Linked DNA regions of Homo sapiens. The gene in region 2 interacts genetically with the main gene of each other region. Each region holds a gene or a part of one and is shown on either strand. Other genes may lie near its edges.

Region 1 (3,500 bases), about 50 Mb from region 2:
TATACTGGCTTAGGGCAAGCCTAGTTAAAATGATGAAATAATTACTCTTGTTGAAGCAATACATATATCTTTTAACATATTTTCCAGTTACAAGGTAAATTACATTAATAAGTAAAAATGTAGTAAAGATTAAAATGGCAAGATGCTGTCCTGCTTTGTAAAAATTTTCAGTCAAGATTTGAGTTGAGTTTGGCTATATCAGGCAAATACTTAAAAGTTCATGAATAGTTATACATTATGGCTAACTTTATCCCAGCTCAATAGGGTAATATTGAAGGGGACTTCTGTGTATTATTTAATGCAACTTTTGACAAGTTTGAAATTACTTAAAAAAATAAATGAATAAAACAACTTCACTAAAGTAATAAGATCCTAATTCTAAAATGTAAGTAATTTAAAAGGTAAAAATGACACACTGCTTTTAAAAGGAGCTGGGAGGCACAAAAAAAATAAGTCAATAAACATGCTTTCCACTGAGTCATCACTTACCTTGCTCGTGCCCACCAAGATCAAAAGTTGTAAAGGTCATTCCAGCAATTGTTAGCTCTTCTGATGCTGAAAAATTGTTTAAAAAGAAGAAAAAAACTTGTCAACTCAACAACCCCCAACTACTAGTACTATAAGCCAATATCAATGCTTTCATCTTGTAAAGAAAAAGATACAAGAAGTTGAGTGTGGTGGTACCCGCCTGTAGTTCCAGCTACTCAGGAGGCTGAGGGCAGGAGGATAATCTGAGCCCAGGATTTTTGAGACCAGCCCAGGCAACGCCCCACTCCCAACAAAGAAAAGGAATACAAGGGTGAAATGTTCTTAAACTATTCTAAAAGCCAAAGGTTTCTTTTCTTCCAAGCTATTTTCCACTTCTTAGAAGTAGGTATAGGAGAGGTGTCCCTTTACAGGACCAGTGACAACAGATAATGACAAAGTTCCAGAGGTTTAGATCTGAAAGTACATAACCTGAGTGTGTCTTACAGGGAACTTTCTCGTATGAGTTGGCTTTTGGGACTTCAGTTAATAAAAGAACTCCACCAACTAGGGATTCATCCTCCACGCCTAACACTGACCTTTAAAGATCAAAAGGTCACCTGATATTTTCAAACCTACTCGGATGTAGTGTTGGAACATGTTGGCCCAATCTGTCATCTTTGAGCATGTGAAGAAGAGTGGTTTTGCCTGCATTATCCAAACCTAAGAATACAAGTTTTCCAGATTTCTTGTACAGTCCTAAAAGAGAAAAAAATTGTTAACACATTTGCTCTCTACAGACCAAAGCCTATTTGTAGTTAAATTACTGAGGGAAAGGCACAAACTTTGAAACCTGTATTTCAAGGAAATGGCTTTACCTAGGAACTGGAGCACACTGCTGAAGCCATTGTAGATCCACTCAAAGATGAAAGACATTATTAATGCTTACTACCTGTATAAAATATGAAAGTAGCAAACATTAGCTTTCTGAATGACAGTACAATTGTGGAGAGGTTAACTCTTGTTCCCTAGCCATGATGCACATTTATAGTCTCTTGTTTTCGGGAATAAGAAAGCAGGCCAGGCATGGTGGCTCACACCTGGAATCCCAGCATTTGGGAAAGCCAAGGCAGGCGGATCACTTGAGCCCAGGAGTTCACAACTGGCCTGGGCAAGAAAGCTGGACTCAATCTCTACAAATAACTAAAAAAATAGCTGGACATAATGACACACACCAAGAGTCCCAGCTACTCAGGAGGGTGAGACAGAAGAATTACTTGAACCCAGGGGTTTGAGGCTGCAGTGAGGCATGACGGTGCCACTGCACTCACTTGGGCAACAGAGGGAGACTCTGATAAAAAAGACAGGACAGGACAGGAGAAAGGAAAGGGAAGGGAAAGGGAAAGGGAAAGGGAAAAGGAAAGGGAAAGGGAAAGGGAAAGGGAAAGGAAAGGAAAGGAAAAGAAAAGAAAAGAGAGGGGAGGGGAGGCGGGGCAGGGGAGGAGGGGGAGGGGAGGAGGGGAAGGGGAGGAGGGGATGGAAGGGGAGGGGAGGAAGCAAAGTAAAGAGAAACTAATATTCTTTCTTGACACAGATTTTGCAATCTGGAGGAGAGTCTAGAATCCTTATATGTGCAAAAATAACTTGTTTCCTAATAGTTTTTGATCTATGATACTCAGAGAACTAGGAGTTAAAAATATAAAGGCATACCTCATTTGATGATACTTTGTGGATCCTGAGGTTTTCTGGTTTTTTTACAAATTGAAGGTTGGAAGCAGCCCTGAGTTGAGTAAGTGTATCAGTACCATCTTCTAACAGCATGTGCTCCCTTCATGTCTCTATGTTACATTTTGGTAATTCTCACACAATATTTCAAACTTTTTCATTATTCTTATATCTGTCATCATGATCTATGATCAGTGATCTTTGGTATTACTAGTATAATTGTTTTGTTGTGCCACAAACCACAACCATAGAAGACAGCAAACTTGACTTCCTCCACAGTCCTGCCCCCACCCCAAGCCTCCCTATTCTCCAAGTGAAAGTAACAGGTCTCTCCCTTGAAAGCAAAAGTTAGAAATGATTAAGCTTAGTGACGAAGACACATCAAAACCTGAGATAAGCCAGAAGCTAGGCCTCTTGCACTCAACAGTTACCCAAATTGCAAATGCAAAGGAAAAGTTCTTGAAGAAAATTAAAAGTGCTACTCCAGCAAACCCATGAACGTCAAGAAAATGAAACAGCCTTATTGCTGATAAAAAATAATAATAAAATAAAAACACGAGGTAAAAAAGCAAGTGCTGATGTAGAAGCTGCAGCAAGATAACTGATGAAGGTGGGTGGCTACACTAAACAACACATTTTCAATGTAGGCAAAACAGCCTTCTATTTGAAAAGCCATCTAGGACTTTCATAGCTAGAGGGGAGATGTCATTGCTTGGCTTCAAAGCTTCAAGGGGCAAGCTGACTCTCTTGTTATGGGCTAATGCAAGGTGACTTTACGTTGAGGCCAATATTCATTTACCATTCTGAAAATCCTAGGACCCATACTCATTTACCATTCTGAAAATCCTAGGACCCATACTCATTTACCATTTTGAAAATCCTAGGGCCCTGAAGAATGACACTAAATCAGTCCAAGTGGAGCAAGTGAGCGAGCAGAGTGGTTGTGTGGTTGCGTCTCGGAAACCAGTAGCACTTGCAGCATGGCTGACCAACTGACTGAGGAGCAGATTGTAGAATTCAAAGAAGTTTTTTCACTATTTGACAAAGATGGTGATGGAACTATAACAACAAAGAAACTAGGAACTGTAATGAGGTCTCAGGCAGAATCCCACAGAAGCAGAGTTACAGGACATGATTAATGAAGTAGATGCTGATGGTAATGGCACAATTGACTTCCCTGAATTTCTGACAATGATGGCAAGAAAAATGAAAGACACAGACAGTGAAGAAGAAATTAGAGAAACATTCTGTGTGTTTGATAAGGATGGCAATGGCTATATTAGTGGTGTAGAACTTCACCATGTGATGAC
Region 2 (3,500 bases):
GACTTCTTGAAAATAAGGTGCATCTCACTTCTTTCCACAATCAGGCTCTCAGCAATCGTTTGAGGGATTTATAAAACCTCAGATTCAGTTGGGATATGAGTGATCTTGATTATTTCCTCTTAACAAATATAAATGACCTTGCATTAAGGCAGCTCAGAAGTACAATTCACATTTTAAGTAGAACATAAATCTCTTAAAAATCATATTACTATAGTTTCTCAACAAGTTCATACTTGAATAAAAAGAACATACTGCATTAATAAAAAGAAAAATCCAAGTTTAATAGCCCACTAACAATACTTTTTAAGAAACAGAAATAACCGTTTACATGCTACAAATATTTCTTCATTGATATCACATATAACTTTGACAACTATACAACTAAACTGATCTGTGGAATTTTTCATGGCATCATTTTTATAATTATGTTTTCTCACCTATACTGTCCAAATGTGGTACTGATTTTTTTCACTGTGTTAGTTCTGTGTCCTGTCTTTTGAATCCCTATATCCGAGAATTGTGGCTGAGCAATTGTTAATGAATCACTCTTCTGTCATCCATCACAGGAGCGAAGTGGGAAAGTCCTCTGAGGATTTTCTCAGCAATGGAAGTTGTACTGGGACTTTCTGTGCAGACAAGAAAGTCTTAAAAAGGAAAAAAAAAAAAAACCTCAGTGAACTTTACAAATTTACAGTCAAATACCATGCATCGTTGTCTTTTCTGAAGTAAAAGAACAGACAATCGGCCAGGCACGGTGTCTCACGCCTGTAATCTCAGCACTTTGGGAGGCCGAGGTGGGCAGATCACAAGGTCAGGAAATCGAGACCATCCTGACTAACATGGTGAAACCCCATCTCTACTGAAAATACAAAAAATTAGCTGGGCATGGTGGCGGGTGCCTGTAATCCCAGCTACTCTGGAGGCTGAGGCAGGAGAATGGTGTGAACACGGGAGGCGGAGCTTGCAGTGAGCCAAGATGACGCCACTGCACTCCAGCCTTGGGGACAGGGTGAGACTCCATCTCAAAAAAAAAAAAAAAAAATGGACAATCCAGTGCTCAACTTTACTGACAAACACTGCAAACCGCCTCCAAAGAGCACAGCCTGTAAGCAAGTCCTCAGGCCTTCCAAAGGGACAAGAATGCCCAGGAAACACTCAGTAAGATTAACCAGCATGATTTCTTCATAGCAAAGCCAGTACAGAGAGTAAAAGACACAATTTAAAGTTAGTTATGGCCAAGTGTTGTGGCTCACGCCTGTAATCCCAGCACTGTGGGAGGCCGAGGCAAGTGGATCATCTCAGCTCAGAAGTTCGAGACCAGCCTGGGCAACTTGGGGGAACCCTGTCTCTACCAAAAAATAAAAAAATTAGCCAGACGTGGTGGTGCACACCTGTGGTCCCAGCCTCTCGAGATGCTAAGTTAGGAGGATCGCTTGAGCCTGGGAGTCAGAGGTTGCAGTGAGCCAAGATTGCGCCACTGCACTCACACAAGCTGGGTGACAGAGTGAGACCCCTTCTCAAAAAATTAAAATATTTTATTTTATTTTTTTTCTTTGAGACAGAGTCTCGCCCTGTCGCCCAGGCAGGAGTGCAATGGCACGATCTCAGCTCACTGCACCCTCAGTCTCCCAGGTTCAAAAGATTCTCCTGCCTCAGCCTCCCAAGTAGCTGGGACTACAGGTGTGTGCTACCACGCCCGGCTAATTTTTGTATTTTTAGTAGAGACAAGATTTCACTATTTGGCCAGGCTGGTCTCGAACTCCTGACCTTGTGATCCGCCTTGGCCTCCCAAAGTGCTGGGATTACAGGCATGAGCCACCGTGACCAGCTAAAATATTAATAAAAAATAAAGTTAGTTATCTGCCATGTTAATTTGAGGCTTTTTTATTTTTTATTTAATTATTTATTTTTGAGACAGGGTCTCACTCTATAATCCAGGCTGGAGTGCAGTGGTACGATCACAGCTCACTGCAGCCTCAATCTCCCGAACTCCAGCAATCCTCCCACCTCAGCCTCCCAAGTTGCTGGGACTACAGGTGCACACCATCATGCCCCAGTGATTTTTTTTTTTTTACTTTTAGTAGAGACAAGTAATGTCTTGTCTATGTTGCTAAGCTGGTCTCGAACTCCTGAGCTCAAGCGATCTGCCTGCCTCAGCCTCCAAAGTGCTAAGATTACAGGTGTAAGCCACCACACCTGGCCAATTTGAGGCTTTTCAAAGAACAATCCTAAAAAGGTCTAAAAGGACATGAACATAAAACAACCATTCAGCAAAACTGATCTAAGCTTGAATGAACTATGTATAGAATAATTGTTAACATTTTAAATGGATTATCTTATGACATTAGTATAGTATTAGAAACTTAAATTCTTGCCTAAATTTTACAGCCAAGTGTAAGAAGAAGTAAATAAAACAATTATAGTGAACGAATCATATGTGAAATAGAAGGTTCTGAGTTTTCCATATAAGGTGATGGCAAAATCCTAGAATTACTATTCTTTTGGTTTTGTTTGTCTTGCTTTGTTTTGTTAGGGGAGAGAGCGTCAGGGGAACTTAAATTATTTCGAACTTCATTCGGGATAACTGCAAAGACTATGGTATACTGAGAACTTCTACTGCCAGATATTATGTAAAAAATTACAATTATTAAAACACCATATTTCACCAAATCTAAGACACTGTTGATTGTGACACTTCACTGTTATGTACCATAAAAAGATGCCCAGAAAGGGAGTCTCAAAGGAGAACCCCTCACAAAAAGTGGGGGACTAAACATCTATAGTCTCAATGAGGGATAAAAGCAAGCAACTACATGCAGAAGGGATGGCAAAGAGGCCTGCGCACCTCTTCCTTGACAATGGAAAGAGGGAACAAAAACTCCAATATCTGAACTGACAACCCCATCCCTGCAAATTTTGGGGGCTGAAATCACACTACCAGCATCATCCTAAAAAATCCCAAGCAGAGAAATTAGCTTAAGCAGAGGCAAGTTGGTAAAGCCCCTCCCCCAGTGACCAGCAGAAGAGAATGCACAGCTTCTCAGAAAGAACTCAACTTCCGTTAAGGCAACAGCTGACTTAAATTTTTTTTTTTTTTTTTTTTAAGAGACGAGGTTTCACTATGTTGCCCAGGCTGGTCTCAAACTCCTGGGCTCAAGTAATCCTCCCACAGCGCTGGGATTACAGGTATGAGCCACTGCACCAGCCCCAACAGCAGATTTTAAGATGCATTACAAATTTAAATATGTTAAAATGTGGAAAATAAATGGCTTGAAATCAATGAAGTATCATAGACAAATAAATCACCAGAAGAGATGAGAAAGCCTAGGAAACAAATATTAATTAAAATGTCAAACAACAGCAAAATATTTGGCATATGATAAAAATATCAAACCAATGACAAAAGGGTACATTATTCAATATATGGCACAGACAGAAACGATTATGTAAGAAAAAAGTTAAATTGTTCTCTACACCTTACTCTTCTAAATTACAAAGCC
Region 3 (3,500 bases), on a different chromosome or scaffold from region 2:
CCGCCAGCGCCAGGGAAGAGTGGGATAACACGGCACACAGCACAGGTGCCACCAGCGCCAGGGAAGAGCGGGATAACACGGCACATAGCACAGGTGCCACCAGTGCTGCGCGCTCCTGCTGAGCTAAGCGCCACCTTCGTGAATGGTGAACGTCTGTGTGAGTTAAGGGAAAGACACTTCCTCAGGTTCTTCAAAAGCTGAACATTACAACATTCGTCTTCAGGCGTGGACTTGTCTGGTGACTCCGTGCTTTGGAAAGACGGCATGCCTTGCCCTTTGCCCCCGCTGCTCTTGGGCGTATACTGCGGCCCCTGGGCTGTTTCAGGGCCCTCAGGATTGATTTCTGGGCTACGAGACTTGGGCACACCCTGAGTAACATGATGCAGCGACACATTCCATGAGCTGATATCCTGTGGCTCTGGGACCGAAATCACATCTTTCTCAAGTAACTGTCAGTAAGTACCAGCACCAAAGCCTAAAATGAGACAGCTCCTCCGTGGCTGAGCTTATGAGTTTCAGTGGACAGACACCGAGGCACACACGACACAGACCTCCTCTGGCCTCGTCACCGGTCTAATGGACATGACCCAAGTTTTACGCCCCTCATGCCTAAGCCGGCCCTAACCTCTTACAGCAAACTCCCTGGCCCCTGGAACTGAGAGGGAAAGGTAGAGCTGGCTTGTCTCTGCCCTTGCAAAAAATGCACCCCTTATCTAAGAAAGGGTGATTCACAGACAGACAGAACTGCTAAACACATGCCCAGGGCATCGGGAATCAGAAGGAGCCAGGCTAACAGCAGGCATCGCTACATCGCCTTTCCCAGCAGGCAGGCGGGCGGCGGACGCCCCACAAGCTAAGCTCCTCCACTGTCCCTACTCACTTTGTGGTCTGTGGTAACCATGCAGCGGCCAGTTCTCTGTTTGTCCTTATGCTTCCTGTGGGGCTCTGCCATCCCCAGCATGTCACTCTCCCCTCCGAGTGCTGGGGCTGAAGGTAAAGAGAGAACTTCCAGTTCAAATTCGATCACGTGGTACGCAGGCGCAACAGGCAGACTGATGCTCGTGACCTTGTCGGAGGACTGAATCCGGAGCGCGGCCTCAGAAGACTGTTCTACGAAGGACAGAAAAAGTCACTTCAAAGCTGTTCCCTCGGTTTCACTTGTCCTTTTCCTTACAGCAGGTGATGGCCCAGCAGTGAGGCCACTGCTCAACCTCTCCCGCTCCTGCGCACCTGGCAGGCAAACCCAAGAACAAGGCCCCTAGGACAGAGCAGCCCTGTGTGAAAGCCGGCAGGCAGGCGCCCAGACCCATCATTGATCTCAATCTGAAGAGAGGAAAAGGGCATTTCCCACGGGGCCCACCCAAGTCCTGTGTAGGTCCCTGCATGACTTTCTCCCGTTCCAGCTCATCCGCAGATCCACCCCCACCCCAGGGGAGCAGGGTCCTCCCCTTCCCCTTCCTCGTGGCTGGGAGGATGGGAGTGCTCAGGGCTCTCAACAGCACCTGCAAGGGCTGCTCTGCTTTTGCTTCTCGGGAGCAGGGCCAGCCCAAGGGGGACAGGGTCTGGCAGGCATCACCATGGAACGTGACCCCAGCCGTGACCCCCATCTCCTAATCCTCAGCCAGACAAGCACTGCTCGGCCACTCAGCGTGTGAACCACTCTCAGTTTATCACCTCAGATGGGACCCCAGCACAGGCATCAGGCCGCAGGGCTCCTATGGAACACGGACTCCAGACACTGTTGAGGGGCGCTCAGCAGGATGGCAGCAAGGCCAGGCTCACCCTCACACCCACACAGTGCAGGGCAAGGTGGGCATCCTCCTTGGGCCTGGGTGGGCGGCACCTCACCTCTCGTGTTGGAGTAGACCACAGCCCTGCTCTCCGCCTGGCACAGGATGAGCATGGCTTCGGCATTGCTAAGCTGCAGGCTGTCTCCATTCTTTATCGTATAATGGCCGGTAGTGACAGTGAACTTGACTCTCTGAGGAATGCCTGCCAGAAGGCTATCTAAAGGAAAAGAGATCGTGGCTCAGCACCGCTGCCAACCGGAAGACAGCATCTCAGGGCCCGCAATGGGGTGAAAGGGGCTCTATTTCTTTTACTATGAAAGATTTGCTCCTTTGGGATCTCCATGAATTCCTTCTACTTCCATTCCCTTCTGCCCTAACTTTTCATCTCAATGATGTGGACTACAGGGTTGAAGGAGAACCTTGCTGGGGAAAAAAGAATCCTGTGAGTCAAGGAGTCTTATACCCATCTTGGTTCAGCAAGTCAGGGATTATGATCATGACTACGTCTCTGAGGGTCACAAAATTTGCCTGCCCATTAGTAGTAGAAGAGAATCACATAATGAGGCTTAAGAAGAGACTGTAAAGAAAACTTGACTGTGCTGGTGCTGCTCAAATATTCAAAACCTTCTCTGGATTTTTCAGCTTCAGGCCACGGGCTTTTGGGTTAAGAACAGTCAGCAGTCAGGTGGCTCCCCCTCACTCCAAGACAGCAATGAGAGGCAGGAGTGAGCTGAGGCCTCTGAGAATCCTGCTGCAGGGAAGACAGAAGGCAGGCAAGATACCAGGACCGGGGGGAGAGTGGACAGAGACAGGGGACACTAGGCAGGAAGCAGGAGCCAGGCCATGAGCCTGGCACTGCAGCCGCTGGGCCATGGGGAGGGCAGGGCCTGCTGGCTGGTGCTTCGGCTCCCCTGCGGGAATCGAGTTCAGCTTCTCTACACAATGTTCCAATGGAAGAATCACTGGAGAGACTGACTGCTGTGTCCCACATCTGACAGCCTTTGCTGGTGGCCACACAAGAGGCACAAATGCAGAAAAATAGGGGGAATGGGGGAATAACAGAAAAATGCCCTTTGTGATTTTTTTCCACGTAGAAGAAACAGGCAAATAAATAAATCGTTGCTAGCCCGAACAAAGGAGACATTCACTCACTCTTGTTCAGCTGCCACATGTTCTTCAATCATTTGTTTATAGCAACTCCTTCCAATTTTAGAACTTATCAGAAAGGACAATAGCTTTGAATTTCTCAAATGCCATGCCAGACGGACAAGTTTAATCAACCCTTTCAAAGGAAAACTTTTTTTTTTTTTAAGAGATGGAGTTTTGTTCTGTCACCCACGCTGGAGAACAGTGGCGCAATCACAGCTCCCTGAGGCCTCAAACTCCTGGGCTCAGGAGGCTGAGGCAGGAGCCTCAGCTGGGGCTCCAGCCTGTAGCTAGGACTAGAGGCCGTGGCGCACGACTACACCCAGCTAATTTACTTCATTTTTTTATTTTGCAGAGATGGGGTTTTGTCATCCTGCCCCGACTGGCTTACCCATGCTGGTCTCAAAGCCTTGGCCTCCCAAAGTGCTGGGATCTGAGTATAGATCCTAACTAAATCTAGTGTTTAGCATTTGAAACGTACTTCTAAGCAGGAAATTATATACATATTTATGAAACCCTGTGGTAGACATTAGCTGCTTCTTGGCCTAATGTGACACTGTAAAA
Region 4 (3,500 bases), on a different chromosome or scaffold from region 2:
ACACACATATACATACATATCAGTATCAGGTCATTTTGGCTTCTGTAGACTTCAGTTTCCTCATTTGTAAAATGGTAGAATTGTATTATACCTCCAGTAAGGCAAATGGGATAGATTTCACCCAGCTTTCAAATTTTATGACTGAGAAACCTAGCAGCTATTTTCATGTGAGGAGAATAAAAACAGTCTTAACAGATAATGTAGAGCACTAGGGGGAAAAACACATGAAGAGGTAGTAGGGTGTAAAGACAAAAGTACTTGATTGGAAGTCCAGAGTTCTAGTTAGTTTCCATTCTATCCACTGACAGGCAATGAGAATTCGGCAAGTCACTTGCCATCAGTATCCTCATCTGAAACACAGGAATAGTATCTTCCCTGCCTGTTATGGAAACCAAATAATGTCATGTGAAAATGTGGCAAACTATGAAGTGCTAGACAAAGATCCACCAGTAGAGTTCATTGGTTAATAATGGAAAGCCGAGGCAAAGAATTTAAGCCTTTGTCAAGTTATGTGACCCTAAGACACAGTGTTATGCTGCTTTCTAAAAAACATTACACATACTTTGTAAACATAGGTAGGTCAGTAAGCTTCCAAATAATAGTGTGTTTGACTTCAGACTTCTGTGTCTCATCCCTTAAGTCACAGTCCACTTTTTTCTAGCCAATTTCGAATAGGATTCCTTCCAAAATCATTTTAAAGTTGGAAGGGACTGCATTCCTCTGTCATTTCATCTGATGAGGAAACTGAGGTACAGTGAGGTTTATGAGGATTATCTAAGGTCATATTGCTAGTGGCTAAGTTAAGAATCTGGGCCTCCTAATACTTAGCCCCAAACCCCTGACACTAGAACAAAGAGCAAAACAGGATTTAGATCAATTCCTTCTATTTTTCTGGAAATTTAAGTTCTAATTCCATACTAAAGAAACACTGGAAAACTCAGGAAAAACAAAACAAAACAAAAAAAACCCTAAAAGTCACTTGTAATCCCTGTTTTGCTATTAACATGTTTGGGTATATATCTTTTTTTTTTTTTTTTTTTTTTTCCTGAGACAGGATCTTGCTCTGTCGTCCAGGCTGGAGTGAAGTGGTGCAATCCTCACTCACTGCAGCCTCCAACTCCTGGGCTCAAGAAATCCTCTCACCTCAGATCTCCTGAGTAGCTGGGACTACAGGTATGCACCACCATGCCCAGCTAATATATATATATATATTTTTTTTTTTTGGTAGAGATGTAGTCCCACTATGTTGACCAGGCTGGTCTCAAACTCCTGGCCTCAAGTGATCCTCCCACTGAGCCTCCCAAAGTGTTAGGATTACAGGTGTGAGTCACTGTGCCCAGCTGGGTATACATCCTTTTTTCCTGAGTATTTTCAAAAAGTGGGATCATATTGAACATATTCTATAATCCTTTATGGAAAAAAACTGAGCAATTCCCATTAAACATTTTCCCACATAATCAATTTTGATATTTTTAATGGTTGCAATGAATGTGCTATAAATATCAAACATATCTCTAGTTATTTCTTTACAAAATAGTCTTATGAGAGGAACTACTAATAAATTTCACTCTTTTACACTGTTAGGTTTCTGGCCATTTACATTCCTGGTATTTAACAAGGTATTCAATTACCTGCATAACTAAGAAGATCATAGGATTTTTAAAGATATGATGGTTTGGGACAGCAATCAAGTTCTAATGGTGCTCACTTTTTAGGTCACCTTCATCACAGACTGCTCCAAAGGCAGAGCAATGTGGAACGAACCAGCACATTTACTTAAGATCAAAGTATGATACATCTCTTTGAGCGCCTCACTTCACAATAGGGATCCATTCATTGGCTTCCAGATGATGTTCACAGTTCATGTAACACTGATACTGACTTTGTTCCTTATGTTTAGACAGCTTCTCTGTCTATACTTCTCAGAAACACCATCAACCAGAACAGAGCCACTTATTATCCACAAAAGTTGCATCAACCAGCTTACCTTCTGGGAGGGATGGATGGTACCCAAATACTCAAACTGAATCCTATAGTGTGGAGCAACCAAACAGAAAACAGTCCAAGGATTCAGGAAATGGTAAAAACATTTTAAATCTAAATAGTAGTTATTTTCATTTTGTTCTGCTCCCACCCCCCAAAAGAACTGGAATTCTTTCCAGCATGACCAAAAAGGAAAGCTAGTAAAATATATCTAAAGGAACTGACCGTTGCATATTGATAATTAAAATTCTCCTGGTGATTTAGATATTTCAGAAACCTTATAGGCTTTCTCATTAATTCCAAAGATTATCAACTTATGTTTCACTGAAATTATATTACTGACCTTATTTAGAAAAAGCTACACAAATTACTAGTGTTTATTGTTACTTGCCATGCACGGTTAGGTTTTACATATATTTTATTCTGCACAATAATCTCATAAAGTAGGAATTTTGACCCCATTTTACAGAGGAAGAGTCTTGTCTAAGTCTACTCAGTTAATAAACGACAAGCAAAGACTCAAATCCAGTTTGACAGCTTAGACTATCAAACTCTAAACTCAAATTTTTACAACTATACTACACTATTATTTAAATAAATAAAAATCAGGTATAAGAAGCCCAGTAGACTCTGGCTTTCTATTCTTCAGTTCACCTTGCAGACGATCTAAAATTGCCTTTCATCATTCTTTACTAAAAAATGTTCACTGGTGCCTACCCATTGCCTTAGAAGTGTACATCCTTGAGCCAGCTTTTCTTCACCCCTCATGTCTCACTCAGTTTAAATGCTATTGCCTCAGAAAGAACCTCTTGACCTTATAATCTAAATTGGGTCTCCCTGTTTTTATTCTAAGTACCCTTCTTACTTTTTATGACTCTTTTCATAATCTGTATGTTGACTGATTAAAGTTCCATTAGGATAGGGACCATGTGTGGTTTGTTCATTAAACCACCCAGTTTTTAACCCTGTATACCCAGAGACCAGCATTGTGCCTGTCAAATGGAGGTACTCTTTTGCAGAATGTATGAATGGAATGAAAGAAATTAAATGAGAGTCAAGGATCTCCATAATCTGGCCCTACTGTACCTTCTCAGCCACACTTTGCTTGTTTAGGTCAATTCACTGCTCCCTGTGGAGGTCTCTGGCTCCCTCTGAGACTACAAATCCTACCCAGACTTTAATACTTGGCTTAAAACCCACCTCCACTAGCACCCCTATCCGAGACATAACCAGCCTCCTCTCCACTTCTATTAGACTCCCATAGCACTTGCTCATCATGCTCCTATCCAACTTTTACTATAAACTACTTTGGAGGGTTAATTTACTGTTCATGCAGTTAGTCTTAGGTCTCATCTACACCTGCACTATGCATCACAGTAGTCACTAGGCACATGGAGCCACTACGTACAAATCCATTTAAATTAAATAAAATTTAAAATGTGGTCCCTGTTCATATTAGGGACACTTCAATTGCTCAATAGCTACTATGGCTAGTGGCTACCATATGGAACAGCACA

Evidence for each region. A genetic interaction does not mean that the proteins touch.
Region 1: changes in SEC23IP (region 2) and SAR1A together harm fitness less than expected from each alone (positive genetic interaction), as found in Homo sapiens cells (one large-scale study listed by BioGRID).
Region 3: changes in SEC23IP (region 2) and TRAPPC10 together harm fitness less than expected from each alone (positive genetic interaction), as found in Homo sapiens cells (one large-scale study listed by BioGRID).
Region 4: changes in SEC23IP (region 2) and PTAR1 are lethal when combined (synthetic lethality), as found in Homo sapiens cells (one study listed by BioGRID).

What each region holds. Positions count from the first base shown.
Region 1 is NC_000010.11:70,160,515-70,164,014, forward strand, and holds part of SAR1A (small COPII coat GTPase SAR1A), read right to left. Parts: intron 2,246-3,500; exon of another isoform or gene 2,176-2,245; intron 1,418-2,175; 5' UTR 1,402-1,417; coding exon 1,344-1,401; intron 1,225-1,343; coding exon 1,105-1,224; intron 556-1,104; coding exon 490-555; intron 1-489. UniProt on the Homo sapiens protein: Small GTPase that cycles between an active GTP-bound and an inactive GDP-bound state and mainly functions in vesicle-mediated endoplasmic reticulum (ER) to Golgi transport.
Region 2 is NC_000010.11:119,937,730-119,941,229, reverse strand, and holds part of SEC23IP (SEC23-interacting protein), read right to left. Parts: intron 645-3,500; 3' UTR 1-644. UniProt on the Homo sapiens protein: Plays a role in the organization of endoplasmic reticulum exit sites. Specifically binds to phosphatidylinositol 3-phosphate (PI(3)P), phosphatidylinositol 4-phosphate (PI(4)P) and phosphatidylinositol 5-phosphate (PI(5)P).
Region 3 is NC_000021.9:44,085,309-44,088,808, reverse strand, and holds part of TRAPPC10 (trafficking protein particle complex subunit 10), read right to left. Parts: intron 2,008-3,500; coding exon 1,849-2,007; intron 1,111-1,848; coding exon 881-1,110; intron 1-880. UniProt on the Homo sapiens protein: Specific subunit of the TRAPP (transport protein particle) II complex, a highly conserved vesicle tethering complex that functions in late Golgi trafficking as a membrane tether.
Region 4 is NC_000009.12:69,753,512-69,757,011, forward strand, and holds part of PTAR1 (protein prenyltransferase alpha subunit repeat-containing protein 1), read right to left. Parts: intron 1-3,500.